Linked DNA regions of Homo sapiens. The protein of the gene in region 4 purifies or fractionates together with the protein of the main gene of each other region. This does not show direct contact. Each region holds a gene or a part of one and is shown on either strand. Other genes may lie near its edges.

What was found.
Region 1: the proteins of EEF1AKMT2 (region 4) and RTF2 fractionate together in Homo sapiens (co-fractionation; one large-scale study listed by BioGRID). This does not show direct contact.
Region 2: the proteins of EEF1AKMT2 (region 4) and CTPS2 purify together in Homo sapiens (affinity purification with mass spectrometry; one large-scale study listed by BioGRID and IntAct). This does not show direct contact.
Region 3: the proteins of EEF1AKMT2 (region 4) and ZNF318 purify together in Homo sapiens (affinity purification with mass spectrometry; one large-scale study listed by BioGRID and IntAct). This does not show direct contact.
Region 5: the proteins of EEF1AKMT2 (region 4) and TBL1X purify together in Homo sapiens (affinity purification with mass spectrometry; one large-scale study listed by BioGRID and IntAct). This does not show direct contact.
Region 6: the proteins of EEF1AKMT2 (region 4) and SMG7 purify together in Homo sapiens (affinity purification with mass spectrometry; one large-scale study listed by BioGRID and IntAct). This does not show direct contact.
Region 7: the proteins of EEF1AKMT2 (region 4) and RGPD8 purify together in Homo sapiens (affinity purification with mass spectrometry; one large-scale study listed by BioGRID and IntAct). This does not show direct contact.

The regions. Positions count from the first base shown.
Region 1 is NC_000020.11:56,466,889-56,471,631, forward strand, and holds the start of RTF2 (replication termination factor 2), read left to right. Parts: upstream 1-1,738; 5' UTR 1,739-1,809; coding exon 1,810-1,878; intron 1,879-3,737; exon of another isoform or gene 3,738-4,053; intron 4,054-4,725; exon of another isoform or gene 4,726-4,743. UniProt on the Homo sapiens protein: Replication termination factor which is a component of the elongating replisome. Required for ATR pathway signaling upon DNA damage and has a positive activity during DNA replication.
Region 2 is NC_000023.11:16,709,674-16,714,541, reverse strand, and holds the start of CTPS2 (CTP synthase 2), read left to right. Parts: upstream 1-1,872; 5' UTR 1,873-2,207; intron 2,208-2,324; exon of another isoform or gene 2,325-3,029; intron 3,030-4,701; exon of another isoform or gene 4,702-4,731; coding exon of another isoform or gene 4,732-4,818; intron 4,819-4,868. UniProt on the Homo sapiens protein: Catalyzes the ATP-dependent amination of UTP to CTP with either L-glutamine or ammonia as the source of nitrogen. Constitutes the rate-limiting enzyme in the synthesis of cytosine nucleotides.
Region 3 is NC_000006.12:43,366,214-43,371,076, reverse strand, and holds the start of ZNF318 (zinc finger protein 318), read left to right. Parts: upstream 1-1,654; 5' UTR 1,655-1,689; coding exon of another isoform or gene 1,690-1,711; coding exon 1,712-2,110; intron 2,111-4,863. Other genes in the region: atherin-like, read right to left, coding at 956-1,654, 1,690-1,713.
Region 4 is NC_000010.11:124,784,886-124,788,973, reverse strand, and holds part of EEF1AKMT2 (EEF1A lysine methyltransferase 2), read left to right. Parts: intron 1-4,088.
Region 5 is NC_000023.11:9,709,198-9,713,285, forward strand, and holds part of TBL1X (F-box-like/WD repeat-containing protein TBL1X), read left to right. Parts: intron 1-50; coding exon 51-125; intron 126-435; coding exon 436-563; intron 564-2,413; coding exon 2,414-2,579; intron 2,580-4,088. UniProt on the Homo sapiens protein: F-box-like protein involved in the recruitment of the ubiquitin/19S proteasome complex to nuclear receptor-regulated transcription units. Plays an essential role in transcription activation mediated by nuclear receptors.
Region 6 is NC_000001.11:183,538,296-183,542,383, reverse strand, and holds part of SMG7 (nonsense-mediated mRNA decay factor SMG7), read right to left. Parts: intron 4,005-4,088; coding exon 3,944-4,004; intron 1,401-3,943; coding exon 1,281-1,400; intron 309-1,280; coding exon 1-308. UniProt on the Homo sapiens protein: Plays a role in nonsense-mediated mRNA decay. Recruits UPF1 to cytoplasmic mRNA decay bodies.
Region 7 is NC_000002.12:112,391,940-112,396,027, forward strand, and holds part of RGPD8 (RANBP2-like and GRIP domain-containing protein 8), read right to left. Parts: intron 2,815-4,088; coding exon 2,679-2,814; intron 1,281-2,678; coding exon of another isoform or gene 1,168-1,280; intron 1-1,167.

The DNA.
Region 1 (4,743 bases), on a different chromosome or scaffold from region 4:
CGGCTGTAATCCCAGCACTTTGGGAGGCCGAGGCAGGTGGATCACCTGAGATCAGGAGTTTGAGACCAGCCTGGCCATCACGGTGAAGCCCCGTCTCTACTAAAAATACAAAAATTAGCCCAGCATGGTGGCGGGCGCCTGTAATCTCAGCGACTGGGGAGGCTGAAGCAGGAGAATCGCTTTGATCCTGGGAGGTTGAGGTTGCAGTGAGCCGAGATCACATCACTGCACTCCAGTCTGGGCAACAGATCGAGACTCTGTCTAAAACAAAACAAAACAAAATGAAGTCCCTACCCTCATAGAGCTTACAGTTATTGTGGTTAGCATAGAAATAAATCATAAATCAATCAGAGACCAACTAATTAAAGGGATTATTTTTTAAAATTCTCATTAATCACAGTAACAAGTACCCCAAGCTTACATATAGCCCTTGAAGTTTCCACATCCACGTATTTTCTGGGCAACTCTTCCCAAGTAAAAAATATTTTCAGCGTTTTTATGTTTCACGTAGGTCAATAGGGTAATATCCAATCATAAAGATCTGCCTTCTTGGCAATGGAGAAATTTTCCCATCATATATATGTACAAATACATACATACATACATACATACATATTAATGACAGAGTCTTGCTCTGTTGCCTAGGCTGGAGTGCAGTGGCATAATCATAAGCTCACTGCAACCTTGAATTCCTGGGCTCAGGCAATCCTTCCTACCCCCTCAGCCTCCGGAGCCGCTAGGACTACAAAAGCTTACCACAACGCCTGGCTAATTTTTCTTTTTCTTTCAAGATGGTGTCTCACCATGTTGTCCAGGCTGACCTGGAACTCCTGGGCTCAGGTGCTCCTCCCGTCTCGGCCTCCCAAAGTGCTGGGATTATAGGCACTTTCCCATAATATTTATAATAATTAAAGGAACAAACAGAGAGATAGACAATCGCCTAAGAGCAGACAGACAATCATGAATTTTTAGCAAGGGATTTGTGTTCTTATAGATAAAATACAGCCTGACTCTTGGAACGGGCATGGCAACATCAGTGTATATTTTATAAGAACTATTATATCGTCTATTAATGATACTTGATTGTTAATAAAATTTTTTTAGCCTGGGCTTCAGGAAACTGTGAATGAAATACACACACGCACAAACTGTATGCAAAATTTCACACACATGCCATCTACAATATGCATGGCAACACCAGAAAGTTCCAGGCCTTAAGGGAGGGTCTTACTTCCTAGAATCTGTTGTAACATCACTTCACAAGATTTGTTGTGAGTGCTTGAGTCACAGTTGGCGCTCAAGAAAGATGCGTTCTCCTTTTAAACACAAAAATGTCCATTGATACAGCAGATTCCGTTCATAGGCATCCTTAATCGCAGAAACAGGAGGGCGGCCCTTTTCCTCAAGGCGCTCTCAGTCCAGGGATGTGCCCGCTCCGCAGCCACACAAGCTGGCGTGGGATAGGGTCAAAGAGCGGTGGATGCGCACGGGCCGCCCACGCCCTCGCTGCCCTCCCGGAGCGTGGGCGAGTGATTCCGATTGTGCAGCAGAAACCCAGGGTCTCACGGGAACGAGGAAACCCGCCCACGCCCAGCCTCCAAGCGACGCTCTCCATGACAACCGGCACTTGGTAACGGCCTCGCCCTGCCCCGCTACGCCGCGCCTAGCGTGCCGCCCCGCCCCGCCCCGCTACGCCACGACCAGCGTGCTGCGTCACGGCGGTGCGCCGGAAGTGGCTGCGGATTTCGCCGGAAATCCCGGAAGTGACAGCTTTGGGGGTTTGCTGCTGGCTCTGACTCCCGTCCTGCGATGGGTTGCGACGGGGGAACAATCCCCAAGAGGCATGAACTGGTGAAGGGGCCGAAGAAGGTTGAGAAGGTCAGTGATGTGGGCCGGCTCTTGGCGACCGGGGGTGGTGGGAATTTGACGACCCCAGAAAACGAGAGGAAGTAAGAAGGGGGAGCCAGCGGAGTTCCAGACCTGGCTGCGGTCTTTTATTCCATTCAGAGGACTCAAAATTAACAACAGTATTAAGAGTGGACATTCAATGGGTGCTGACTATTGCCATTCACTGGACAGTAATCTTAACAGGGGGTATCTCATGTAATTATCACAATAGCCCTATAGCTACATACTGTTGTCCTCATTTTCAGACATGGAAGTTGAGGCTCAAAAGGAGAAATTTGCAAAGCTAGTAAATGGCAGAGCCAGGATTTGAACCCTACCTGCGACTAGTAGCAATAATACAAATACCTAGTGTATACTGAGTTTTGTATACACTAACTTCATTTGCTCAGAGAAGCCTTCCCAAACTGTTCCCTTACCACATCCTTTTATAAACTGTCTTAGCCTGCACACGGCTGTACGTGGTTGATTTGTATCAAGTCTTCCCCGCTAGACGGTAAGTTCCTGATAGCAGAGGCTGTACCCTTTTTTTCTCTGCAACTAGCATGGTTCCTGGCACACTAAATATTTCGAATAAACAAATGAGTGAATAATCCCTGATCTCACAAGTAATCGAGGAAATTATAATAATTTCTTTGCTACTGACGGGGACATTGAGTCCAGGGATATTAAGGTGACTAAGATCACACAGCTGGTAGGTAGTGAAGCCAGGATTCCCATCCACTTATTTGGGATTTCAAAGTTAGCACAAGTAATTACTTTTTAATGATAAAATATTTGTAAAGCACCTAGTAGAGACTTCTTTACAAAAATATTTGTAAAGCACACGTGGAGACTTCATGTATTCTGATTCAGGAGCTGGAGAGCTTGTTTAAAAGGTAAACCCCTTAAGTCACTATTGTATTTGAAGCATTCCAGTGGCTTCCCATCACATTAAGAATAAAATCTCGTCAGACCCTTGAGCAGACCTTGCCTATGTTTCTGACCTCATCTTCTGCCCCTCTCCACCTCTTTCATACTGTTCTAGCTAAACAGGCCTCTTGTTCTTCAACCTGGAGTGTGAGTTCATCAATCTGAAATACTCTTCACTGAGATTGTCACATGATGAGTTTCTTTACTTCATTCAGTTTTTTACTCAAATGTCATCTGTCCACTGTAACTGAAATGTGCCTCACTTCCAATATTCTCTCTTCTCTTCTTAACAGTGCCTACCACTGTGTTGTTTATTGTCTCTTTCCCACGTAGACAGGAACCTTGTGTGTCTTACCTCTGTAACCCCTACCATGTGTCAGCCACATAATAGACACCTAATAAGTATGTGTGAATATGGGAATGAATGAATACCCAAGAGGATGAAGTGTACCCTCTGATCATACGTACATGTAAACAGGCGAATGCTGGATAATTAGCATTCATGAGTGGTTTTTTGGCTTTCACCAAAAAAGTGTTTAGCTCAGTTTTGTTTTCTTGTGCCCAGGGCTGAAAAGGAGTAGCTTAATGAAAGGCTTGACAAGAAACAGGTGTCGGAAGAGGGTAGAAAAGAAGGAAGAGCGATTCAAAAAAGCCAGAATGCCTAGGCAGGATGGATTTTTATTATAACTATTCACACAACAAATGCTTAATAAGTGGTTACCATATATACATTGTTGTAGGCCCCAGGGATATAGCAGTGAACAAGGCAGAGTCTAGCCCTGGTGGAGCTTACATTTCGGATCAATATTGTGAAATCTGCCCTGGTTCCTAACGCAGAGCACCTAAATTCCTTGTAATTTCCTGGGTGACGGGATCATCTTTTGTTCTAATAAGGCAATTATTGGTGGGCTCCTGGATGGGGCCTGGTCACCAGAAACACCAAGCCAAGATTAGAAGCCTGGAACTTTCAGCCCCACCTCACCCCCATCCTTCAGGGAGGAGAAGAGGAATTGGACATGGAGTTAATAATCCATCATGCCTACGTGGTGGGGTCTCCATAAAGATCCCTGAAGTTGAGGGTTTGGAGATTTTCTGGGTTGCCGACAACATCCACATGCCAGGAGAGTTACCCCAACTCCATGAGGACAGCCCTGCACTTGGGACCCTTCCAGATTACTTCTTTATCTGGCTATTTATTTGTATCCTTTAAAATGTATTTGTAATAAATCAGCAATGGTAACTAAACTCTTTCCCCATATCTGTGAGACACTAGCAAATCATCAAACTGGGCGGGGGGATCGTGGTAGCCTTTGATTTATAGACAGTCAGAAGTGCAGGTGACAACTTGAACTTGTGATTGGCATCTAAAGTCGGGGTAGGGACAGTATTATGGGACTGAGCCCTTAACCTTTGGGATCTGAGGCCATATCCAAATAGGTGGTATCAGAATTGAGTTTAATTGTAAGACACCTGGCTGCTATCAGAGAATTGGTTGGTGTGGGGAAAATCCCATACATTTTGTCCGAAGTGTTCTGGAAGTATTGAGTGTTGTGAGTGAAAGTATAGAAAAAACACTTGTCTGGCCAGGCGCGGTGGCTCACGCCTGTAATCCCAGCACTTTGGGAGGCTGAAGCAGGCGGATCATGAGGTCAGGAGATCGAGACCATCCTGGCTAACACAGTGAAACCCTGTCTCCACTAAAAATACAAAAAAGTTGCCGGGCATGGTGGCAGGTGCCTGTAGTCCCAGCTACTCGGGAGGCTGAGGCAGGAGAATGGCGTGAACCCAGGAGGCAGAGCTTGCAGTGAGCCAAGATAGCGCCACTGCACTCCAGCCTGGGCGACAGAGCAAGACTCCGTCTCAAAAAAAAACAAAACAAAACAAAACCACTTGTACTTGTCTTTCCAGTACAGATATGTAAAAACT
Region 2 (4,868 bases), on a different chromosome or scaffold from region 4:
GTGTGCCATGGCGCCAGGCCTCCATTGTGTCTTGAAAGGCACTGACATTTGTTCTGCAACCTTCTCCCTTTCCTTGTCACAGTCATCTATTAGTTTCAGGCTCACTACCCACCCCGCAACCCCAATTCTCTAAAGTTCCTTGACCTCGATTGACTCCTCCACCTCCTGCCATCCTTTTGGGACCCTCGATGTCCAACATACCAGCCTTGTGGGCACTAAACCCAAGGCCAGTGATGCCCATCTCACTTTTCTATTCCATTGTAGCTGCCACACCCCAAACTGTCTCATTTCCTGGAATATCCATTTGAAGGCCTGAACTCCAGCACCACACTCTCTGCTGCCAGTTTGCCAGTCCTCTCCTCAGAGGCCCTGGCCTTGGAGCCCTTCTCTCATCTGTCTCCCAGTCCATCAGCTCCCCGCTGGTTTTATTAACAGTTCCTGTCCTCTAGGACTAGAGCTCTGGCCCATCACTGCAATCGCAGTCTTTCTGTGCCCTCCACCTCCTCACCCTCTTGTCCTTCTATTCTATGCAAGCAGGAAACTTGGGTTTCATAACTAAGAGCTATATTTCTGTAGATACCTTGCCAGATTATAGCAGATTATAGCTGGACACCACTACACGATGATGGTTTCTAAACTCCACTAGGTCTTCAGTGACTCTTGTCTAACTTGTCGCTCTAGCATCTCACACTGGTTATGCGAAATTTCCACCACTTTCCTAAAACCTTCCATCTCACTTCAGACCCTTCTGTTGTCCATGTTAGCTTCCTTCAGTGGTTGGCTTCTTGCCTTCACCCGAAAAACCTCCTGTATCCGTTCCCAGCACCAATCATCCTCCAATACTCTTTTTTTTTTTTTTTTTTGAGACAAAGTCTCCTCTGTCACCCAGGCTGGAGTGCAGTGGCCTGATCTCGGCTCACTGCAACCTCTGCCTCCCAGGTTCAAGCGATTCTCTCTGCCTCAGCCTTCGGAGTAGGTGGGATTACAGGCAGGTGCCACCACACCTGGCTAATTTTGCATTTTTAGTAGAGACAGGGTTACACCACGTTGGCCAGGCTGGTCTCGAACTCCCGACCTCAGGTGATCCGCCTGCCTTGGCCTCCCAAAGTGCTGGGATTACAGGCGTGAGTCACCCGAAGAGTGACTTTTTAGAGTATTTGGGCGGGGTGCAGTGGCTCAAGCCTGTAATCCCAGCATTTTGGGAGGCAAGGCAGGAGGATCAGCTGAGGTCGGGAGTTCGAGACCAGCCTGGCCAACGTGATGTAACCCCGTTTCTGTTAAAAATGCAAAATTAGCCGAGCTTTTTGGCATCCGCCTGTAATCCCAGCTACTCCGGGGGCTGAGGCAGGGACAATCGCTTGAACCCGGGAGGCGGAGGTTGCAGTGAGCCCAGATCGCGCCATTGCACTCCAGCCTGGGCAAAAAGGGCGAACGAAACTCCGTCTCAAAAAAAAAAAAAAAAAAAAAGTCACTCTTGGAAGCCTTAATTGCCTTCCTCCCCTCACTGCACCCCCGCAACTCTTTGCTGCAGAAGTATTGTTCTAGGGAACCTTACTGGTTCCAACAGACGGGTGGACCTCCCACCAGACTGTGAGCTAGCTCCTCAAAGGCAGGCATTCTCTTTCCTTTTCCTTCTCTCCTGAGCGCTCCTGCAGTTCCTGGGGCGTAGTAGGGGATCCACAAGCGTTTGTGACCAGTGAAGTTCTTTACAAGGGTGAGATCTGCACGGGAGGACCCGAGCGAGGGTCTCGGCTTGCCAGGAAGCCGGGGTTCCCCGGGAAGCGTGGAGTTCACCCGCGCACTCGAAGTGCCTTTGCAAAGTGAGCCACGGGAGGGAGGAGCGGTCCCCGGGCTGGGCGAGGCCTGGGGCCCAGTGCGTCCAGAGCGGAGGGTGACGGGAGCTGCCTGTGCTGGAGGAATCACTTTTTAGGCGCTTGTTTTGGACCATTGCACAAACCCGGGTGCAAACCCCAAGCTCACCAGCGTGAGTGAGCTGGGCCAGCAGCAGGGAGGAGAGGGGAAGGTGGGCGAGGAGGGCGCCGCGCACCCCGAGGCCCGTGTGGGCGGTGGGAAGATCCCGGGGGCGGCTTTGGACAGCCCCGGCAGCGACCCCTTCCCCAGCCCGACAGGTGAGCGCCAGGCCAGCCGCGGGGTGGAGCCCGCCGTGCCCACCGGCCACCCTCCCCGGTGCTACCACCACCGCGCAGGTAACTTCCCTTCTGGGCCTGTCCCAGACCCCCAGGGCCTCGGCGCCCGGGCCATCCCTCGTCCCCAGGGCCTCTCCGCCCTGCACCCCCAGCCCCGGTGCACTTGTGGGGCCGGGCTCCTTTGTCCGCTCTCTGATGGCGCCGGCTCCCTGCCCAGCGCTGAGTCGGGTCCGGCCGCCAGCCCCGCGCTCGCAGACCTCGGCTGCCGGGTGTGGCGCGGGGACTGGGGAACGCTGGCCCGTGCCCAGTGCGGTTGGAGCCTGTCCCGCGCGTCCCCGGGACGCGCTTCTTCCCGCCTCCGCCCGCGCCAGCGCCCGCACCCGGATCCCCACTTCTCCCGGCCCTCGGGAGCCAGGAGAGCCCTGAGATGGCGTTGGCGGAAGTGAAGCCCCGAGCGGGGGTCTGCGAGGCTGGTGATCAGCGCCGGTAACATGGCCTTTCTGTCCTCTCCCCGGTCCCAGTGCACCCCTTAAACAACGACCCCCGCGTTTTCCCCGTACTAGATGGTTAGGGCGCATAGTGCCGAACTACGCTGCTGCTACAGAATAGCTTTTTTGGGGGCAACATAAAAAAGAATTGTATGTATGGTTTATATACAACAAAATGTCCCATTTTCAGTGTGCAAATCGACGGGATTTGACAAATTATACACTCCTGTAACCATTATCCCAAAGTGAACATTGACCATTTCCTTCACCCTGCAAAGTTCCCTGGTACCTCCTTTCTGTCAATCCACCCCAGGCCCCGCACTCAACCCCGGTTCTGATTGTTATCATAGCTTAGCTTTGACTGTTCTAGAACTTCATAGAACAAGATCATCAGGTAAGTACTCTTTTGTGTCTAACATTACTTTTTAAATGGCCATCACTGAGAAGGTGTCTCTGGGTGCTTCCGGTGCTTTTATTTGCTCTAGGCCTGCCTGGTCTAATGTGGGAGCCACTGGTCACATGTGGTTATTGAATACTGGAAATGTGGCAAAATCCGTACTGAGATGTGCTCTGAGTACAGGCACCTGATTTCTGAAAGCTTAGTACACAAAAAAGATGTCAAATATCTCACTAATACATTCTTACATTGTGCGTTAAAAGTGATAACATTTTTGGCTACATTGGGTTAAATAACATATATTAACATGAACTTCATTTGATTCTTTTTACTTTTTTAATATGGCTACTAGAAACTTAAAATTACGTACCTGGCTGTGTAATATTTTTTATTAGGTAGTGGAGACAGCACAGCTCTACACTGTGCTATCCTATAAACACTTGGTTCTGCTCACTGCATGTAAGAGTAAATGAAAAACTTGTCTTGACACCAGAAACAATCCTCAATGGAGGAAGTGATCTAAAACAGGGCCAGCCTTTCCCTGAACCTTTGAAACTTTGTTAAACTTACTTGTGTGCTTAAAAGAAGTAGAGGGCCGGGCATGGTGGCTCATGCCTGTAATCCCAGCACTTTGGGAGGCCGAGGTGGGCGGATCACGAGGTCAAGAGATCAAGACCATCCTGGACAACATGGTGAAACCCTGTCTCTACTAAAGATACAAAAATTAGCTGGGAATGGTGGCATGCACCTGTAGTCCCAGCTACTTGGGAGGCTGAGGCAGGAGAATTGCTTGAACCCGGGAGGCGGAGGTTGCAGTGAGCCCAGATCGTGTCATTGCACTCCAGCCTGGTGACAGAGCGCGACTCCAACTCAAAACAACAACAACAACAACAAAGTAGGAAGAATTAGGTGTCCCCTTGGTATTAAGTTGCATTTTTACAAAAGGTCTCTAAAATATCCAAGGTGCTTTAAAAAGGTATCTTGTGTTTTTGAAAAAACAGAAAATGAGCAATTGCTTATGTAGGGGAGGAAAGAGCTGATATCATAAGGGTCACGGCTGACAGCCTTAAACAAGAGACAGATTAACAAGAGAGAAGCATAATAATTTATTGAATCATAGGTTTATGTGACATGGGAGCCTTCAGAAATGAAAACCCCTTAAAGATGCAAGGGAAATGATCTGATTTTATGCTTGGAGTCCATGAAGCAGGGACAGATGAGCTAATGGAAATAGACTGAGTGGGGAAACCCAGCAAAGCCTGTCCACATTCTTCTTGGCCTCTCTGTTGTAGCGTTTCTTCCTCCCCAGTATGGGGTAGGACCTCTTTGGAATGAGGGTCTTAATTTCTTTATGGCCAGCTGTTGTATAGAAAGGTGGTTGAGAGGAAGGTTAGAGTCATATTTTTTGGCTTTATGGCTGGCTTTGGGGGGAAAAGGGTTCTAGTTTCTATGACTTGCCTTGGGGGAGTATGAGGGGTGAGAGACAGGAGGGCAGGAGAAGGTCAGAGAGAAACTTTGCTTCTGAGGCCTTCATTTTTGGGTTTTGTTTTCTGAGCCCCAACACATACAACCTAATCACCTAAATATATTAAGACATAACATGGTGTATCTTTGACCAAATTAAGATAGAAATCTGTTTTTTTTTTTTTTTTTTTTTTTTTGGAGACAGAGTCTCACTCTGTCACCAGGGTAGAGTGCAATGGCACGATCTTGGCTCATTGCAACCTTCACCTCCTGGGTTCAAGTGATTCTCCTGCCTCAGCCTCCCGAGTACCTGAGACTACAGGTGGGTGCCACCACGCCTGGCTAATTTTTGTATTTTTAGTAGAGACAAGG
Region 3 (4,863 bases), on a different chromosome or scaffold from region 4:
TATGCCATTATAAGAACGTATGGAAATGGATATATATATATATGGATGTATTTTTTGAGAGAGGGTCTCACTCTGTCACCCAGGCTGGAGTGCAGTGGCATGATCACAGCTCACCGCAGCCTCAACCTCCCGAGTAGCTGGGGTACAGGAACGTGCCACCACACTCGGCAAATTTTTTTTTTTTTTTTTTAGAAATGGAGGTCCTTCTACGTTGCCCAGGCTGGTCTCGAACTCTCAGGCTCAAGCAATCCTCCTGCCCCGGCCTCCCAAAATGGTGGGATTATAGGCGTGACCCTTTGCGCCTGGCCCACTTTTGTATTTAGGATGCAGGGCCCTGAGATTGGCATCTAGGAAAATTCTGGACTTAGGCCAGGGGAGGGGGCATGCCTGGATCTCTTACAAAAACTTGCCACGCCTCCAGTTGGTCATGATGTGGGCCCCTGGTAATGAAGGACCTCCACCATGACCACAAGTACTTTAGTCAGAAAACAGCTCGAAAACGTGTGAAGAGAGTCCACCAAACAGGCTTCGTGTGAGCAACAAGGCTGTTTATCTTACCTGGGTGCAGGCGGGTTGAGTCCGAAAAAGGAGTCAGCAGAGGGTGGTGGAATTATCATTAGTTCTTATAGGTTTGGGATAGGTGTACAAAGTACATTCTTAAGGGCGGGGGAGAATATTACAAAGCACCTACTTAAGGGCAAGGGGGAGAATATATCCTGTCAGTTAGGGTGGGGCAGGAACAAATCACAATGGTGGAATGTCATCAGTTAAGGCTATTTTCACTTCTTTTGTGGCTCTTCAGTTGCCTCAGGCCATCTGGATGTATACGTGCAGGTCATAGGGGATATGATGGCTTAGCTTGGGCTCAGAGGCCTGACAACGTCTATTTTGGGTTTGATTCTGGCCCACCACCTCCACCTCGTACTTTCCTATCCTCAATTTCAACCTCTAGAAATTAGGCAAACTGGAAAGTAAACTGATGCGGGTCGTGTTGCTTCAGCTGGGGACAGGATTTCGGTGGGCGCTCCTGCCGGGGTCCGTAACCTCCCACACAGCTAACGTTTACAGGCCCGTTTATATTATCACGAATGGTTTTCAACCATTTCGTGTCCATCCCTAAATTAAGAGGCTTGAGGGGCGGCACGAAAGAGCGAAGACACCTCCGCACGGTCTCCAAACCCCTAAGTCCAGAGGCCTGGAGCATCCCCGGAAAACCAGATCCCTCTCCAGAGAAGCCCTTCCTTCCGCTCCGCCCACCCCGCGCGGAGGCCACAGGGGTCACGTGGCGGCCGCGGGAGGGGGAAGTGGGCGGCTCTGCGGCCGCCATCTTGAGGATTCGGAGGCGGGGCGTGCAGAGCTCAGGGCGCGCGCTTCGCTTCCCCTCCCCTCGCCCAGCCTCGCGCCGGCGTCTGTGCTCCTCCCCACTTTTCTTGGTTCCTGCGGCCGCTCCCTGAGTGGAGGAGCGGGGAACCCCGGAGGCGGGGGGGGGTGTGTCGGACGCGTGCTCGCGCCCTCCAACCGCCAGCCGCGGGGGCGCGCTCGGCCGGGCCCCCGGGGCGACGCGGGGCCGAGGGGAGGGGGCTGCTCCCGCGGCTGAGGCGGCGCGCAGCGGCCGAGGTGGCGGCGGCTGCAGCTGCGGCGGCGCGCTCCGAGCCTGCGTCTAGGGCGCCCCCGGGTCAGAGCTGTCGCCGTGGCCGCCGCTGCAAGAACCATGTACCGCAGCAGCGCTCGCTCCTCCGTCTCTTCCCACCGGCCTAAAGACGACGGCGGGGGCGGCCCGCGCAGCGGCCGCAGCTCTGGCTCCTCCTCAGGCCCGGCTCGCCGCAGCTCACCGCCGCCTCCGCCCTCCGGCTCCTCGTCGCGGACCCCGGCTCGCCGACCCCGCTCGCCCTCAGGGCACCGCGGCCGCCGGGCCTCGCCGTCCCCGCCACGGGGTCGTCGCGTCTCCCCGTCCCCGCCTCGGGCCCGTCGCGGCTCCCCGTCGCCACCGCGGGGCCGACGACTCTTCCCGCCGGGCCCGGCCGGCTTCAGAGGCAGCAGCCGGGGGGAGTCCCGCGCCGACTATGCCCGGGACGGCCGCGGAGACCATCCAGGCGACAGCGGCAGCCGGGTAATCCCACCCCTCGTCCAGGACTCCCTCCATCCCCCAGTCCCCTCCCCCGGAATTCCCGTTTCCAGAAACGCCCGGGGCCTCCAGACCAGGGTCCTAAGCGCGAAGCCTCCGGCCAACTCCCTCGGGGATGCCGAGCCTGGAGGCTTCTGTCAGACCCGGGAGCGTTGACACAATAACGGACTCGGGAGCGCACGGGCGTCTCGTCGGGAGTGCGCGCTCCGTTCCTTAGGAATAGGCTGTTTCTCTCATGCCGGGTGAGGTGTGGAAAGTTTGCCAAGGCGAGGGGCATTTCGTCCAAACCGTGTGTCTTGGTACTTTTTGTAGAGTTGATGTGTCCTCGGGGTTCCGTACTTTTCATCCCCTTACACCTGAGCTGCCTTCCTGGATCTTAGGGGAAAAAGCCGAAATGTCCGTTTTTGTGGCGAGTTAGGGACGCTTGAACCCTACCAGGCTTTACGTCTAGAGTGTAAACTGTTAGCTTAAATGAATTGGAGCTGCTGCTTCGGAATGAAGTGTGCAGGACCACAGTCACTGCCATAGCCACTACCTCTTATCGAGTTCTATGTCAGGAATTATGCCTAGCCTTTCACTTTGCACATTATTTTAACCCTCACAAGTCTTTGAAGTGAGGCAGTTAATACTATTCCTTGTTGTACAGCCGAGGAACCAACCCAGAGAGGTTCAAGTAACTCGACTGAGGTGACACGGCTAAGTGGTGGAGCTGTGCTTCAACTCAGATCCGCCTGGTTCCCCAAATCCATGATTTGAACCTCTATGTTTCACTGCTAGAGGAACGGAGCATGAGTTTAAGTTTAGTTTTAGAAATAATGTTGACCTTTAACCATAACCACCACCCCAAGAGATCCTCTAGGTAGAGTCTGGTTTTTGGGAATTTGTTTTATTTTTAGTTCATCAATCTTTTTATTATTATTATTATTTGAGAAAGAGTCTCACTCTGTTCCCCAGGCTGGAGTGCAATGGCATGATCTCAGCTCACTGTAACCTCCGCCTCCGGGGTTCAATCAATCCTCCCGCCTCAGCCTCCCAAGTAGCTGGGATTATAGGCGCCTGCCATCATGCCCGGCCTCTTTTTTTAAACTTAGTAACAAAGTTCTGCTTTTTTGAGTGGCTCTCTAACATGTATGTAAGTACTGTGAGTACTTTGGTCATGGTTAAATTGATTTGTCACTATGTTAAGATTTCCAGTTGAGCAGTGCCAGTGTGGGTGGCAGTCACTACAGAGGAAGGAAGAACAGAATGCTTGTTTACACAACCTCCTTTTCTTCTCCAGTGCGCAATGTATTTGCTCCAGTCTTTTCTGTCTGAGTAAATAGCATCATCCGTTGCTTACATCAGAAACAGCCATTATCTCCCTTCTTCCCACATCTAATTTGTCAGATTACCTCATCTGTCTAACCCGTTAGCTTTACCTCTAGAATACATCCCCAAAACTGCCATCCTCCTGCCATCACTCTGGTCTAAGCCCTATTACCTCTTGCATGGATTGTTGCATTTGGCTCCTTTACACTCCGCCCTTGCTACCCTCCAGTTTGTTCTGGAGGTTACACAGAAATCAAATTGATTTTTAAGCCCTCATTTTATACATTTGACATGTATTTATTGAGCATCTACTTTGCATTAGGACTGTTCTGGACTACCCTGGGGATACAACAAAGTACAAACCAGAAAAAAACTCCTATCCTTATAGAGTTAATATTCTAGCAGGGAGAGTTGGATAATAAGTTGAAGTTAGAAATGCGATGGTATGTTAAATGTAATTAAGTACTAAGAAGGACTAAGAAGTACTAAAATAGGGCCGGGCGCGGTGGCTCACGCCTGTAATCCCAGCACTTTGGGAGGCCGAGGCAGGCGGATCACGAGGTCAGGAGATCGAGACCATGTTGGCTAACACGGTGAAACACCGTCTCTACTAAAAATACAATAATTAGTCGGGCTTGGTGGCGGGCACCTGTAGTCCCAGCTACTTGGGAGGCTGAGGCAGGAGAATGGCATGAACCTGGGAGGCGGAGCTTGCAGTGAGCCGAGATCGTGCCACTGCACTCCAGGCTGGGGACGACAGAGCAAGTCTCAAACAAAACAAAAAAAAAAGGACTAAGAGCAGAGAAGGGAGTTACAGTTTGTGTGCGTGTGTGTGTATGTAATATAGTGTTGCTCTGTCACCCGGGCTTGAGTGTAGTGGTGTGATCATAGCTCACTGCAGTCTCAAACTCCCACGCTCAAGCGATCCTCTCACCTCAGCATCCTGAGTAGCTGGGACTACAGGTGCGTACCAACATCCCAGCTGATTTTATTTTAAAAAAATGTTTTGGTGTGGGGAGGGATTTCACTATGTTGCCCAGGCTGGTCTCAAACTCCTGGCCTCAAGTGATTCTCCTGCCTCAGCCTCCCAAAATGCTGGGCTTACAGGCATAAGCTACCATGCCTGGCCCGGGGAGTTAAAATTTTTGAGAGTAGTCAGGGAAGGCCTCCTGGGAAGGTGATTTTTGAATAAAGATCTGAAGGAGGTGAGGGTGTGCTGTGCAAGCATCTGGAGGAAAAATGTAGTCAGATGATGTCACTATCCTGTGTAAAACCCTCCTATAACTGTTAATTGCACTAAGAATAAAATCCAAATTTCCCAACTGTGCTTTCTGCCTATCTTTTCCTCTTCTGTCACTTTGCTGCAGCCACACCGGCCGCTTTTCTGTTACTTAAAGTATACCAAGCTCTATACTGAGGTGGTTCTTTTC
Region 4 (4,088 bases):
GAGGATATTAACCATCTAAATATAAAATAGTAAAGCAGTCATACTTGGAGAAGTCAGATAGTACAAAAGGGAGGCTACATGGATTGTGAGAGAACCTAGGCAATCTGAGTCCTAGTCTTGACTCTTTTGGCTATAGTCTTAACCTTGAGTAAGCCACTTAATTTTTCTAGGCTTCTGTTCTTTCCTAAGGGTTGTGACTAGGTGATTGCTATTGGTTTCTTGTAGCTCAAAACTCTAGAAATGCATATATATATATATATATAAAGATGACCTTTTGCAATTCCAGTAGGACATACGTATCTTATCTTATAGGTAAGCATATGGTTTGAAAAGTGCATTTTGTCCATGGAACTGTGTTTCGGTAAACATTCCACTGCTAGCTAAACCATCACTGTTGTATGCCTGCAGTGTGCTCTTGCTATGCTGTGTGCTGTGGAGGAATTATAAGACTTAGGCTTCATCCTAGATAATTTTACAGTCTTAATTAGTACAGAAATAAACATAAGAGTGAAATTTGTTAAGTAACCACCACATGCCAAGCCTCATGTTTGGCATTGGCAACAGGAAAATTTAGACTTTGTGCTTGAATTGTTTACATTACAATAGAGTATGGACTGACATATGGACAGTTGTGCCATCACTTGATGCATGCAGTAATACACTGAATATAGAAAAGAGGGTGATTAATTTTGGAGTGGAGGGGTAGGGAAGCATCTTGGAGGAGTAAATATCCAAGTTGGGTGGAAATTTCAGGGACAGTTTGGTGACCTAGTGGCGTGTAAAGAGGGAGAAGATTTCAACTAATGGAAATATTATCTAAAGGCCTGAAGGCTGAAGCAGTATTTTATGTTCTGGGCCTGTAAATAATTTGATAAATTGAAATACAAAGTATACGTGGGGATGGACAGACATGAGGATTAAGTTAAAGATAGGAACCATATTATGCTTTGCCATGCTTAAGACCTTCGATTTTGCATTTAGGCTATGGGGAATTGTTAAAATGTTTTTAGTAGTGGAATATGATTAGAAGAACTTGAAATAACCCTTCTTGAAACATTGAGATATAGTGTGTGTACATTAAAGTGCACAAATCAGAAGTATACAGCTAAGTGAATTATCAGAAAGTGAATACATCCACATAACAATCACCTGGTCAAGATGTAAAATATTATAGAACTCTAGAAATTCCCCTTGAACTCTCTACCAATTATTACTCCTTTCTTCCTTTTTTTTTTTTTCAGGCTTTGTCACCCAGGTAGGAGTGCACTGGTGAGATCATGGCACATTGTAGCCTCAACCTCTCAGGCTCAAGCGATCCTGTCGCCTCATATTTTGATTTTTTTTGTAGAGACAAGGTTTCACTATGTTGCCCAGGCTGGCCCTCCTTCCTTTTTAAAAGTAACCACTATCTACCAATCATGAACAAAAGATGAGTTTTAACATCAGATTAATTTGCCTGTTTTTGAAGGTATAAATGAAACTCTTTAGGGTGTGCTATTCCTGGTGTCTTTCAGGCTTTTTTTTTTTTTTTTTTTTTTTTGAGACAGAGTCTTGGCTCTGACACCCAGGCTGGAGTGCAGTCTCACGATCTTGGCTCACTGCAACCTTCACCACCTGGGTTCAAGTGGTTCTCGTGCCTCAGCCTCATGAGTAGCTGGGATTACAGGCGCACGCCATTATGCCTCGCTATGTAGTTCATTTTTATTGCCATATAAGATTCCTTTGTGGCTGGGCGCTGTGGCTCATGCCTGTAATCCCAGCGCTTTGGGAGGCCAAGGCAGGTGGATCACAAGGTCAGGAGATCGAGACCATGCCTTGGCTAACACGGTGAAACCCCGTCTCTACTAAAAATACAAAAAGTTAGCCGGGAGTGGTGGTGGGCGCCATATAGTCCCAGGTACTCGGGAGGCTGAGGCAGGAGAATGGTGTGAACCCGGGAGGTGGAGTTTGCAGTGAGCGGAGATCAGCCTGGGCGACAGAGTGAGACTCCGTCTCAAAAAAAAAAAAAAATTCTTTTGTACAATTATATCAGTTTCATTTATTCTTTCTTTACCTGTATAGGTTCTTTTGGGTTTTAATAGTTTACTGGTAGAGGCTAATGATTTATACTTTGAGATTAATAGCTTGTAGATTATTTTCTTTTCTTTTTCTTTCTTTTTTTTTTGAGATGGAGTTTCACTCTGTAGCCCAGGCTAGAGTGCAGTGGTGCGATCTCAGCTCACTGCAGCCTCTGCTTCCTGGGTTCAAGCGATTTTCCTGCCTCAGCCTCCTGAGTAGCTAGGATTACAGGCGTACACCATGCCTGGTTAATTTTTGTATTTGTAGTAGAGATGGGGTTCTGCTATGTTGGCCAGCTGTTCTCAAACTCCTGACCTCAGGTAATCCATCTGCCTGCCTCAGCCTCCCGGAGTGCTGGTATTATAGGTGTGAGCCACTCTGCCTGGCCTGAACTTCTTTTTTTTTTTTTTGAGACGGAGTCTCACTCTGTCCCCCAGGCTGGAGTGCAGTGGGGCGATCTCGGCTCACTGCAAGCTCCGCCTCCCGGATTCACGCCATTTTCCTGCCTCAGCCTCCTGAGTAGCTGGGATTACAGGCACCCACCACCACGCCTGGCTAATTTTTTGTATTTTCAGTAGAGACGGGGTTTCACTGTGTTAGCTGGGATGGTCTCGATCTCCTGACCTCGTGATCTGCCCGTCTTGGCCTCCCAAAGTGCTGGGATTACAGGTGTGAGCCACCACGCCCGGCCCTGAAATTCTTAATTGAAGTGTAGTTTATGTAGAAAGGTGAGCATAAGTGGTACAAAATGAACCCCTTGTGTTATTCACCAACCTGACCAAAAAATAAGACATTTCTAGTACCATAGGAGCTTCCTTGTGGCCCCTCCCACTCCTTCCCTTCTAAAGGTGACCACTGCTGTCACTTCTATCATCATATAGTAGGCTGTTTTTGATATTAACTGTAGTAGCTTCTTACGGTTTTAATTTGCATTTCTCTAATGAGTAATGAATGATGTTGAGCACCTTTTCAGGTGCTTGTTTGCCACTTGTGTATCTTTTTTTTTTTTTTTTTTTTTTTGAGACAGAGTCTCGCTCTGTTGCCCAGGCTGGAGTGCAGTGGCATGACCTCGGCTCACTGCAACCTCCACCTGCAGGGTTCAAGTGATTCTCCTGCCTCAGCCTCCTGAGTAGATGGGATTACAGGTGCGCGCCAGCACGCCTGGCTAATTTTTTTGTATTTTTAGTAGACATAGCGTTTCACCATGTTGGCTAGGCTGGTCTCGAACTCCTGACCTCAGGTGATCTACCCACCTTGGCCTCCTGAAGTGCTTGGATTACAAGCGTGAGCCACCACGCCTGGCCTGTTTATCTTCTTTAGTAAAATGTCTCTTCAGATCTTTTGCCCATTTTTAAATTGGATTGTTTACTTATTAAGTTTTGACAATTTTTAACGTATTCTGGATATAAGTTCTTCACCAGGTACAAGATTTGCAGATGTTTTCTTCTATTCTTTGGCTTATCTTTTCATTCACTTAACAGTATCTTCTGAAGAGCAGTTCTTAATTTTGATGAAGTCCAATTAATTTTTTCCTTTTTTGGATCATGCTTTTGTTGTAGTATTAAAGGACTCTGCCTAACACAGGGTCACTTAGAACTTCTTCTGTGTTTTTGTTTAAAGTTTTAACACTTTACCTTTTACATTCTTTTTTTTTTTTTTTTTTTTTTTTGAGACGGAGTCTTGCTCTGTCACCCAGGCTAGAGTGCAGTGGCATGATCTTGGCTCACTGCAACCTCTGTCTCCTGGTTTCAAGTGATTCTTCTGCCTCAGCCTCCCGAGTAGCTGGGGCTACAGGAGCGCAACACCACGCCTGGCTAATTTTTGTATTTTTAGTAGAGATGGGCTTTCACCACATTGGCCAGGATGGTCTAAAATGCCTGATCTCGTGATTTTCCCCCCTTGGCTCCCCAAAGTGCTGGGGGTGCAGGGGTGAGCCACCGCGCCCAGCCTACCTTTTACATTTAGACCTTTTTTTTTTTTTTTTTAAGATGGAATCTTGCTCTGTCTTCCAGGCTGTAGTGCAGTGGTGT
Region 5 (4,088 bases), on a different chromosome or scaffold from region 4:
TCTACTCACAGGCCCTGATGTCTTTTTCACACTCTTCTGCTCTCTTTCAGAACGAGGTCAACGCCATCAAATGGGATCCGTCTGGAATGTTGCTGGCATCCTGCTCGGATGACATGACATTGAAGGTAGAGTCGGCATGGCAAGGGGTGGGCTGTTTAATCCTAGACAACCCCGGGCACTTGATGCCAGTCTCACGGTCACTCTTACATGAGGATTATTTATTACTGACCACCCTCCCTTCCTCTGTCATCCGGTGAGCTACGATTTCTCAGTCATAGTCCCACTGAGAATCGCAGCCTCCCTGCAGCCTTTCTCACCACTGTGCACCCTCCACCCTGCCCTGGGCCCCGTGTGCACCCCCGGGAGGAATGATTCCACATCGTTCCCGGATGCAGGAATGGCTTTTGCTCATGTTGTGTCTGGTGTGTTCTGTAGATCTGGAGCATGAAACAGGAGGTGTGCATCCATGATCTTCAGGCTCACAATAAAGAGATCTACACCATCAAGTGGAGCCCCACTGGGCCCGCCACCAGCAACCCAAACTCCAACATCATGTTGGCAAGGTAAGGGCAGGCAACACAGCTGGCACAGCTCGGTGTTACACAAAGACAACAGGAAATTCTGCTAAAGCGCGTCCATGCACGTGTGTTGAAGCCCTTCAGAGGAAGCAAAGCGGTAGCTCACTTTGAAGGGGCCAGGATAGAATTACCGAGTAACACCTGCCTTTGAGGTAAGGATGGTTTTGAGTCAGGCACAGTGGCTTACGCCTATAATCTCAGCACCCTGGGAGGCCAAGGCAGGACGATGGCTTGAGCCCAAGAGTTCAACATCAGCCTGGGCAACATGGTGAAACCCCATCTCTACAAAAACTTAGCCAGGCGTGGTGACGTGTGCCTGTAGTCCCAGCTACTCAGGAGGCTGAGGCAGGAGGATGGCTTGAGCCCAGGAGATTGAGGCTGCAGTGCGCGGTGATCACACCACTGCACTCCAGCCTGGGTGACAGAGCAAGACCATGTCTCAAAAAAAAAAAAAAAAAAAACAGAAGAAGAAAAAAAACCACCCAACATGACTGCAGAGCCACAGTTGAGGGACAGCAAGCCAGGCAGCACCAACTCCTGTTGACGGTGCTCGAATTAAGGTCATCTCTTAGAGAGGACAGGATGGAATTCCTGCATCCACTGAGAGACGGAACCAAAAAAACAAAGAACACATAGGCCGTAATTCTCATATTTCAAGTAATTGTCATAAAATCCACTTAAAGTACTGTGATATAGTGTGATATAGTACTACACACTCGAGTTGTTTTGTGATGACTCAGAAGGTGCTTTTGCGTCGCGTGGTACTATTAGGAGCATAAATTATCCTTTTAGTCAGCAAGTATAAAAGGGGCATCCCGGTACCTAATGGGTCCCTGTTGAAAGAAAGCAAGCCAGACAATAGCTTTGTGATAGATATTACTGTTCTAAGTTTGAAAATAACTAAAATTTGCAGCTTTCAATAATGTGATTACGTATGTGGATGTGATTGTATTTTAATTCTTGTTTGATTAAAATTTATTTTCTATTTAGAGACAGGGTCTCCCTATGTTACCCAGGCTGGTCTTGAACTCCTGGCTTCAAGTGATCCTCCCACCTTGGCCTCCCAAAGTACTAGGATTACAGGCATGATCTACTGTACCTGGCCTAAAAAGTTTTTTAAATGTTTATTCACTTAATTTGCTATTTTTCCAAATATGGCTGTCTGTATTAATTTAGTTGGTAATAATAGATGTCATGTTTTAAATTGTAGGGGCATTTTAGGAAACTTGATAAATATTCTACAAAAATATTTACCATTTACGTCTATAGGAAACATAGAAACAGGGCTGGGCGCAGTGGCTTACACCTGTAATCCCAACAGTTTGGTAGGGTGAGGCAGGAGGATCTCTTGAGCCCAGAGGTTCAAGACCAGCCTGGGCAACACAGTGAAACCCCGTCTCTACAAAAAATAAAAAAATAAAAATTAGCCGGGTGTGGACCTATGGTTGCAGCTTCTCTGCTGAGGCTGAGGCGGGAGGATCACTTGAGCCCAGGAGTTCGAGGCTGCAGTGAGTCATGATCACGCCACTGCACTCCAGCCTGGGCAACACAGTAAGACCCCATCTCAAAAAAAAAAAAAAAGGTGCAGAAACAAATGTAGATATCAAATTGTTTCCCTAATAAGACCATTAAAGCTTTTTTTCTGTTTAATGACTATGGCTTTGTTTTTAATACTTGTAAGTAGTTACAGTTTAGAAGACAAAAAGCTTTTTAGTTATTATCTTTTGAAACGTAAAAGCTGGGAAAAACAACTCCTGGAGATCTGATACACATTATGGAGAACTGTTTGAAACCACCGTGTGTATGTGATTTTGCTTTCTCTCCCACCTTGCTAGTGCTTCGTTTGATTCTACGGTGCGACTGTGGGACATAGAACGAGGCGTCTGCACCCACACGCTCACGAAGCATCAGGAGCCTGTCTATAGCGTAGCTTTCAGCCCTGATGGGAAGTACTTGGCCAGTGGATCCTTCGACAAGTGCGTCCATATCTGGAATACTCAGGTAAGCTCCCGACCCCTACACCAAATCCTTTTAGTAAGGGATGCCCAAATAGCCACGACTCCAGTGCCCTTGGCTCAGAGCAGTGCCCCGGAGGGAGTTGAGCAAGCTCAGGCTCCCCGGGCAGACCCAGTGGATGCTGTCCACGTGCACCCCACGTGGGCTGTCAGCTCTTCCCCCACCAGACACCTCCGGCAGCTCCCCTCCCTGAGGAAGGGCGTCGTGTCCACCGTAATCATGGCTCTTGGCCATTTGATTCCAAACCCTCACCTTGGCACACGTTCTTCCTTGAAGGAGCCGCTGTCTTCTGTTCACTTTTCTGAGTCCATGGCACGAAACCTTCCACCTGCCTCTTCCTCTTCTTAGCAGTTATCACCGAAGTGCTGCTCTCTAGATACTGAGGTTAGAAGGTGGGAGTGGGGGACCAGCTAACGGGGTCAAGGCCACACCAGCTCCTGCAGCTCCCTTACGGAGCAGACCAGGGAGTGGGAAGGAATGTGCTCTTGCTGTTGTCATGCCACTTCAATTTTTCTTTTCTGTTTTGTTTTGTTGTTGTTGTTTTTTGTTTTTGTTTTTGTTTTTGAGACGGAGTCTCACTCTGTCACCCAGGCTGGAGTGCAGTGGCGCGATCTTGGCTCACTGCAACCTCTGCCTCCCAGATTCAAGCAAGTCTCCTGCCTCAGCCTCCTGAATAGCTGGAATTACAGGCACCCGCCATCATGCCCAGCTTATTTTTGTATTTTTAGTAGAGACAGGGTTTCACATGTTGGCCAGGATGGTCTTGAACTCCTGACCTCAGGTGATCCGCCCACTTTTGCCTCCCAAAGTGCTGGGATTACAGGTGTGAGCCACCGTGCCTAGCCTCAATTTTTCAAATCAAAGTAGGTTCTGTTTGAGGACATAAGGTATGTCAATATTGGGTTGTCCTTTTAGCAGGGATTGAAAGGACATAGGATTTAAATAAAGGTGGCTGCTGTGGGTATCTTGGGCCACACCTGAGGATAGAAGAATTCCAGCTGTAAAGTGTAGAAATGGATGGGAAGTAGCACTGCATAGCATAAAGGATTGTATAGGGCCATCAGCACGTGATTCTAGTCTAAGGGAAGAGAGAGGTGATAATATGCTAGGAGCTGTTGAAAATAAGGAAGGGGTCCCTTTCGCCTCAGGAGGGGAGGAATCACACAGCCTTCCCCCTGCCCCCTTTCATCTGCACTGCCTTCTTGGTTCCTTTTGGCTTGGTTGACATTCAGGTGGATTTATACCCTCAAGTTCATTCCCCCTGTGGACTCAATGGTGATGAGCCCTGTTCACTGGCAAGGGGTCCACTGAGATCACAGGCTTCCCAGGGACCTCATGTGAACCACATCCTCTCAGGGAAGGAAGGGAAATGGTGGACCCTGCGTAGAGCCAACCCGACGCCAAGCCCAGCCCCACAGCCCTAGATAGCTCTCCGGGAAGCACGCATCTCAGCACTAGTGTCCAAGAGTCTCCGTTCCTGAAATCCTCGCTAGA
Region 6 (4,088 bases), on a different chromosome or scaffold from region 4:
TGCTATAGTCCCTTCTCACCTCTTTGGGAGGAAAACTTCTTCCTTGGTCTCTGTTCACTTCTCGTGTCTTAATGTTTTCTTTGAAGGTAACCACTGGCTTCTCTCCTGTGTCACAGTTGTTGCTTAAATTTCGGCTTGTAGATAGCACTGATTTTAGCCCTGGGCTCCCATCTGCAGCCAGCGACTCTATCACAGATGTTTCTTGCAGAATGAGGTTCTCTTTGGCTTCACTGGGGTCTTCCAGTATTAATTCTGGGATTTCTGTGATAAACAACAATTTCCCTACCTCATTTTCACACTGAATCAGCCTAAAAAAGCAAAAATAAATCCATATATAAAAAACATTAACTTAAAAAATAACAACTGAATTGTGTGTGGATCCAAGTCAATATATTCCTAGCACTAATAACCATGAAAACAGCAGGATATAACAATGTGGATTCAGGTAACACAAAAAGTAGTTATGTAGAAACTGAGGTTCTCATTATCACACTTAACATCGTCACAACCTATCCCTCTGGCTCTTTCAACGTTTGCTAGAATTTACATTTTCTGAGCATGCTTCAAGTGCAAGACACTGGTCTAGGGCCCTTGATATGTCCTATAAGGTAGCTATATATAATTCCTATTCTATAGATGTGAAAATTGAAGCTTGGAGGTGGTAAGTTCATTCAAACATGGAAGCATTTAACTACCTACTGTATGACAGAAACCTGAATACAAAAATGAGGAAGTAGTTAGTGACTTTGGAAAGGTTATAATCTACTGGGGAGATCCCAAGGACACCCACTTGAGAAGCTGCGGAACTCGAAACGGAACTCAAACCAATGGAATTACAAAACCTGCGTTCTTTTCCCTACACTAACGACCACATCTGCTTTGTACTTAACTGGCTACTAGCACGATCTTGGTCTGTCCTGCCTGAAACTGACTACCATGCCCAGGCCAATACAAATTACCATGACTGTGAAAGTACAGTTCAGTTAGATTTACAGAGATATTTATAAATTAGAGCAGAAACTCACGATAAACAAGAAAGACCTCTGTAATACACAATAGGGAGAACAGAGATTCTAAATAAAGAGTATACTTACTCACTAGGGTTATAATTAGATGTTGTGCTACCAACATGTCGATTTAAGAGTTCATGATTGACAATATTTATACCAAAGCCTAAAATACGTAACATATGAGATGTGTGTGTGTGCGCGCGCGTGTGCGCGCATGTGTTTATCTAAAAAGGTGGTTAAAAAGGGGTAGACCAGAAGTTCCAGACTTACCTTGGCTGATTATCAGCAATCCATTTGCCTATAGAGATCAAGCGTTGCTGTCGTATTCGTCGTTGCTGGCCTTCTTTGTCCCCTGTAATACCCTGGTGACCTTTGGAAAAATCCAAGTTCCTAAAATTGACACAAGCAAGTTATGAGAATATTAAATTGCTAAAGATATTTTCCAGGCAACCAAGTTCACCTGATTAACTGTAATGGCTTCAGATTACTTCCCACATAGGTTAGCTACTTGATGTAATCAACTGCATTTATTAGAATTTATACTACCAGAGATTTTTACAAACTATGAAACAAAGCAGAAAAGAAAATATACAAATTCATTACATTAATGTAATATTTTTACTCACATTTCACTTTCTAGTCAGGGAGCTCAAATAAACCACAACTTTTTATTAGGAAAGATTCTTTTATCATTTTAAGAATAAAGTTTTATAAACATTTATCTTGCATGCCAAGTAATTTGCTTGAAATGACCATGGCAATGCTAAGAGTCTCTGAGGTGCCTATTTTAATAAATAATATTAATCTATCCACTTTGTGGTGGACCATTCTAAATCAGAAAAATGTATAAATATCGTAAAGCATATAGAATAACTCATTGATATCAGAAGGGTAAACCAACCTGAAAAAATAAAGATTTTTCAGATTTCTCCTTATTAAACTTTTTTTTTTTTTAAGAAGATTTAAGAATTGCCAGGCAGAAGGCTAGATGCTGAGGACACAAAGATAAATAAGAGTCCCTACCTTTGGGAATAAATAATTATGATTCAATCTGATAAGCATAATAAGAACTATGTAAAGAATTAAGTGAATATAGTAAAAGGAGGATGAGTTCCTTCTGAGAAGCTCTGAAAGGTTTCATAGAGTGATACCTGAGCTGGACCTTGACAGGTATGGCTAAGTGCTTACCAGGCTGGTGATGGAAGGGCAGTAGAGGAGAAGGAAATGTTCTAGGCACAACATGAACAAAGGTGTGGAGGAATAAAAATAGTGAGCTATTCAAGTATAGCACATAGTGTATAGAGTTTATAAATACTGGGGGAAATGGAAGAAAATAAGGCTGAACAACTAGGAGCTGGATAGTGCTGGAACTTGAGCATCAAGCTAAAAGAGACAGTGGAGCAACTGGGAATGGGTAAATAAAAATATTAGTCATGCAACATCACTATTTCCATACTTAAAAACTATAGGCAGTGTAGAAACAGACTATAGGAGGAGAAGAACTATACGTAGGAAGGTTTTTATACTTCAGGTAAACTGGTGAGAAAAGCCTGAACTATGTATAGGGAAATAAACGGAAGGACTTGAACCTAAGAAGCATTTCAGACACATAATTATAAAGGCTTGGTGAGAAAGACAAATAGAAACAAGGGTTTTTCAGATTTCTAGCTTGGTCATATAGATGGGTAATGCCACAGGCACAGACAGAAAATAGAGAAAGAAGATTGCTTTTTGGCTGACCAAATCGGAAAATATAAGCTCAGTTTTTGGTCACGTTAAAGTTTAAAATGCGTAAGGGAGGTCAGATTGTTAGAATATGCATCCAAACTTCAAGAGAAGTCAAAGCTGAAAATTTGGGACATACCATTCAAGAGACATAGGGATGGATTTGATTAACAGGGTGAATGTACAAAGTGAGAAGGAAAGGGCAAGAAAAGAATCCTGGAAAACAACAACATTCAGAGGCATGTAGTTTAAAAGAAATAGTGAAAAAGACTGAGTGCTAAGGGTGGGAAAAATTGCATCACAGAGCTAAGGAAAAAGGTTTCATGAAGGAAGGAAATCGACGGACTCAATGCTGAAGAAAATTCAATAGGATAAAGACTATAGTCACTGGATTTTGGTATCTAGAAGGCACTGATAGTTTAAACCACAGTAGGCTGAAAATGATCAGGAGTTGAAGTGGAGTCAGTCAGGTTGGCCCACGCTACTCTTTTTTTTTTGAGACGGAGTCTCACTCTGTCACCCAGGCTGGAGTGCAGTGGCGTGATCTCTCAGCTCACTGCAGCCTCTGCCTCCTGGGTTCAAGCGATTCTCCTGCCTCAGCTTCCTGGGTAGCTGGGACTATAGGCACCCGCCACCATGCCCGGCTAATTTTTTTTTTTGTATTTTTAGTAGAGACGGGGTTTCACCGGGTTAGCCAGGATGGTCTCGATCTCCTGACCTCATGATTCACCTGCCTCCGCCTCCCAAAGTGCATACTACTCTTTTTAAGAAGTTTGATGATGAAAAGATAAGGCAACGTAGGAAAATAGAGGGATGTAAATTCATTTTACCTTTTTAAAAGAATGGGGCACACTTAAATGTTACTAGGCTAAAGATAATTAGTTGTTTAAAAAAGAAAGGAAAGAAAGACAAGACACTGGAAATACAATGCAGAGAGGATAACAGATGGAGCAAGGTTCTTAGGGAGGTGAGAAGGGATGGGATCAAGGGCACAGATGGAAAGGTTACATTTTAATTTTTATTACACAGGAATTGAAGGCGTGACATACACAAATCCAATTCACAACAACTTTCAGTATTAGTTGACGTTACAAAAATAACACACAGCTGGGACAGATCAAAGGTTCCTCTACATCCAAGCCCAATTCTCTGCTAATTTTAATACTGCAATCACTGGCAATGATAAAGGTACTTCAGCTATCACCTACCTGAAAGAAGGTCTCAATGCCAAAAATCCTTGTAATTCAAACTCCTCTGGAAGTGGTGTCGCTAAAGGGTCAAAATCAAAATTTGCAAACATTTTAATTAAAATGTTGTTTGGTGGAATACTGTTCACTAAATTTTTTTAAAAAT
Region 7 (4,088 bases), on a different chromosome or scaffold from region 4:
AGGAAGCAGGCACAGAACACAGAACAACCTGACAGAAATGGCCCAAGAATCTTAAAGTCTTGCAAGATGTCTGTCTGCATGAAAGCAAAAAGAAAAAATAAAATATTAAATAAAAAAAAATCTTAGTCTGAAGTTTAAGTAGGGACTTTAATTGACTACTGACTCTAAACTGTGCGGCTCTAATAAATCTACTAAAAGTAATCTAATTTTTTAAAGCACCATATGAATAGACAATTTAGGAAAGAAATGTTAATAGGCCTCAAGGAACATGTTTTTGAAGTGAGCCTTGAAAATCTGCAAAATGACGAGGTTGCATTGTGCAAATTGAAGCTATTATGAGAATGTTCAGGTCAAAAAAATTACCTGACAAATTCACGCACAGGATCTCACAAGGAACACAAATGTGTTCGTTGGCTTTAAAAAAATCACATTAACATTCATGTTGATATACAAAAACTCTTCTCCATCTGTTTTGTGTGAGTTTTACCAAGAAACCAAACAACTGGAAGGTACGTTGAAGATGGCAAAACTACCAACTGCCATTTGCATGAATTGTTGAGCATGACTAGTATTAAAAAAACTTAAAAATTGATATCACTTTTGTTCCTACAAATTGGCAAAGGATTTTATAAACTAGTAAGTCAGCATTAGCAAAAGTGCGAAAATGGCACTATCAGATACTAGCGGTAAGAGCATAAACTGAATATTTTGAATACCCTACAAAACTAGGACAGTGTCCTAGAATTTGTAATGGCATAAACCAGAAACAACATAAATAAAGGAACAGAATTTACAGTACTTCCATGTGATGGGATACCATGAACTCATTAATATTCAAAAAACATTTAAGTTTAAAAATGCTCAGAACTAAAGTAACATTTTAAAAACAGGCTAGCTCATCTACACACAACATAGTAACATGGTAACAATCTCATAAAAAATACTATATGTATAGAGAAAGAACCAGAAGGAAATGCTCTCAAATATAAGAAATGTTAATAAGGTGGTTAGCTTTTAGTTTTCTTCACCCTGTTCAGTACTTCTGAGTATCTCCTATGAGCTCATTAATCTTTAATTTTAATCATCTTATTTTAAAAAAACAAGGACCATCTTGATATATGTTTACTTTTATTAAGGAAAAAGAATCTATGAACACAGGAACAGAAATCAGGAGATCTTGGCTCTCGCCCTTTCAGTGCCACAAAGCTGTTTTGTGAACCTGTAAATAATCCATTTGGAGTCTCCATGTTTCTCAATTGTAAAATGACGATGTGCTGCTTCTACACATTTCACAGGGTCATTGCAAGAATAAAATGAGACAATGAGAATGTTGGATTTACATGCTTGTATAAGAACAGAAGACCTTTTATGCCTGTACACAGAAGAAATGGAAATCATGACCCACAAGGCACCAAATAACTGACTGCACACATCACTAAAAAAGCCCCAGGAAAGGCTAGCCGGTTTGTTTATCCTCTTACAAGGACCTATATGATGTGTAAGGTTTTAAGAAAACAAGGTTTGAACGTTAGACATTTCATATACTTATCTATGACTTACGACATTTAATAAGCTTGACTTCACAAAGATTTTCTGTTATTTTGCTTGTGTTGAGAAGATACTATCACAAAAGGCTAGTGGGGTTGCCTTAACTATAGGAACCATCACACAAATGTGCTCATCTAAACTAGATTTTTTTCTAAATCTTTCCTGGGCTAAAAAGAGAAAAAAAAAAAGGGCACTACTACTACCATTTCAGAAGTCTGTCGTACGTAAAAGGAACAATTTTGTTATTTCTGGCTGCCTGGGAGCAATGTATTATACTGGCAAGTGCTTTGGAGTTACACCACTGGAGTGTGAATCTCGGCTCTATCAATAACTAGCTGTATAATAATGAGTAAGTTACCTAACCTTTCTTTATCCATTTCCTTATTTATAAAAAAGGGATTAATAATGGTGCCGGCCATTCTAAGTTACTGTAATTAAATCAAATTACATTCACACAGCACTTTTGCACACAGCCAACCCACAGTAAACACTATTAGTAACCTTAGTTCATTAACTGTTTACTGTATACTCTAATAAATGTCTGATACACACCCACGCCCACCTGCACATACACAAATGCTCATAGTAATTATGTAAGGCAAGTATTATCTCCACATTTCAGACAGGTTAACTTACACAGCTATTATAGTAAGTGATAGAGCAGAACTTAAAAACCCAGTATGATTCAGGTCCAAACTCCTTTTCTTTCTTTATATAACCATAATATTTCAAATTAAGTAAGATTTCCTATATAACGTCCTGCCTCTCATCATTATCATCAAAATAATTCCCCAGAGGTGTAGGTTCTTAATTAAGCATTTCTTAGTGCATAACTCTATTCAATAACATTTTGCAATTTAAGGAATAATCTCATCTCAGCTCATCTGAGGTGTGGATTAAGTGTTCTTTAAGCCTTTATATACACGTGATCACATACGGCTCGTTTTTTCTGCTTGGGATTATAAAAATCTCCGTAACACCTAATACAGCTTTTGAAGTCACATATAAACAGACGTTGACATGTATATTAACAAACATATATAAACAAGGTGATTTCACACGTTATCTACTTAAAAGAGGGAAGTAAAGTAGTTTTACTAAAATATGCGATTATCCACTTGCCAGCTCACCTGTTAGTGGAGCCCCATGAAATGTCTGTGACCCCTGATATCCATCAGGCACCGAGTCTGGTCCATAATTCTCTGTGGGCCAACGATGACGGGATGCTGACTTACTGCTATTTAGTTTCAACTCCTGCATTTCTTTCTATTGGAAGAAAAAAAAAATCAAATAATTTTAATCATTTAATTATATCATGCCAGAAACAGTGCTGGGGAAACTTACTCTTTTAAATTTAAATAACTGATTTTTTCTTTTTTTCTTTTTTGAGATGGTGTCTCGATCTGTCGTCCAGGCTGGAGTGCAATGGCACAATCTTGGCTCACCGCAACCTCCACCTCCTGGGCTCAAGCAATTCTCCCACCTCAGCCTCCCGAGTAGCTGGGATTACAGGCGTCAGCCAGCACGCCCGGCTAATTTTTGGTATAATAGTAGAGATGGGGTTTCACCATGTTTGCCAGGCTAGTCTTGAACTCCTGACCTCAAGTGATCCACCACCTCAGCCTCCCAAAGTGCTGGGATTATAGGTGTGACCCACCACGCCCGGACCTGATTATATCTTTTGAAAGTTTCTATTTGCCAAAGAGTTCTAGGTACCTGGTGCTGATTTTAAAATATGATTCTTAATTTGTTAAAAATTTATCTGCTCCCATTTTCATTCGTTAATACAAAACCTAATTCATTAACTCTCTCACCTAAACAAATAACCTCCTAAATGATCACACCTTCATTTCCATTCTACACTTGCCTACATTAACCTTTCTGACGTTCACCTCCAGCCAAGACAATTCCCTGCTCAAAAAAACAAGTACCTACAAACTAAACTTCTTTCCCCAACTTTCACAGTCCTCTAACATTACACTGACCATCCTTTCAGTGTGTTCTTTCTACACTGCAACCTGGACTACCTGACATTCCAAATCACCTCCCCAAATTAGCTTTTCACTTAACCCTGTGTTCAAACAAAATACAACTAATTCTCAAGGTGATGTTCAAATGCTCCACCAGGAAAGGGAAAAAAGTAGTAGCTGCAGAGAATTTATTATGTATATAATAATACGTCCAATGCACTTAAACTCTTAATTTTTACACCATCTACACTGTTAGGTAAACAATATTAGCTCCTATCTTAAAATGAGAGAAACGGATGCAGGGAATAACAGCTGGAATTTGAAACACATCTGACTCCAAAAATGTTTTCTTAACACAACTCTGCTGCCTTGACAAGATGGCAGATAGATCCAATGCCGTCTAGTGTAGCTATGTGGCTACCTGATCTCTGCTGAAGAAAACTAAATGACAGCACCATACCCAACACCCTAGAACCTACAAAATGTCCCCTTACAAAACAGACACTTAACAGGAAATTCTTTTTCCAAAGAAATTGTAGTGGTATCAGAAAACAGGTAAATTTTGAAAAG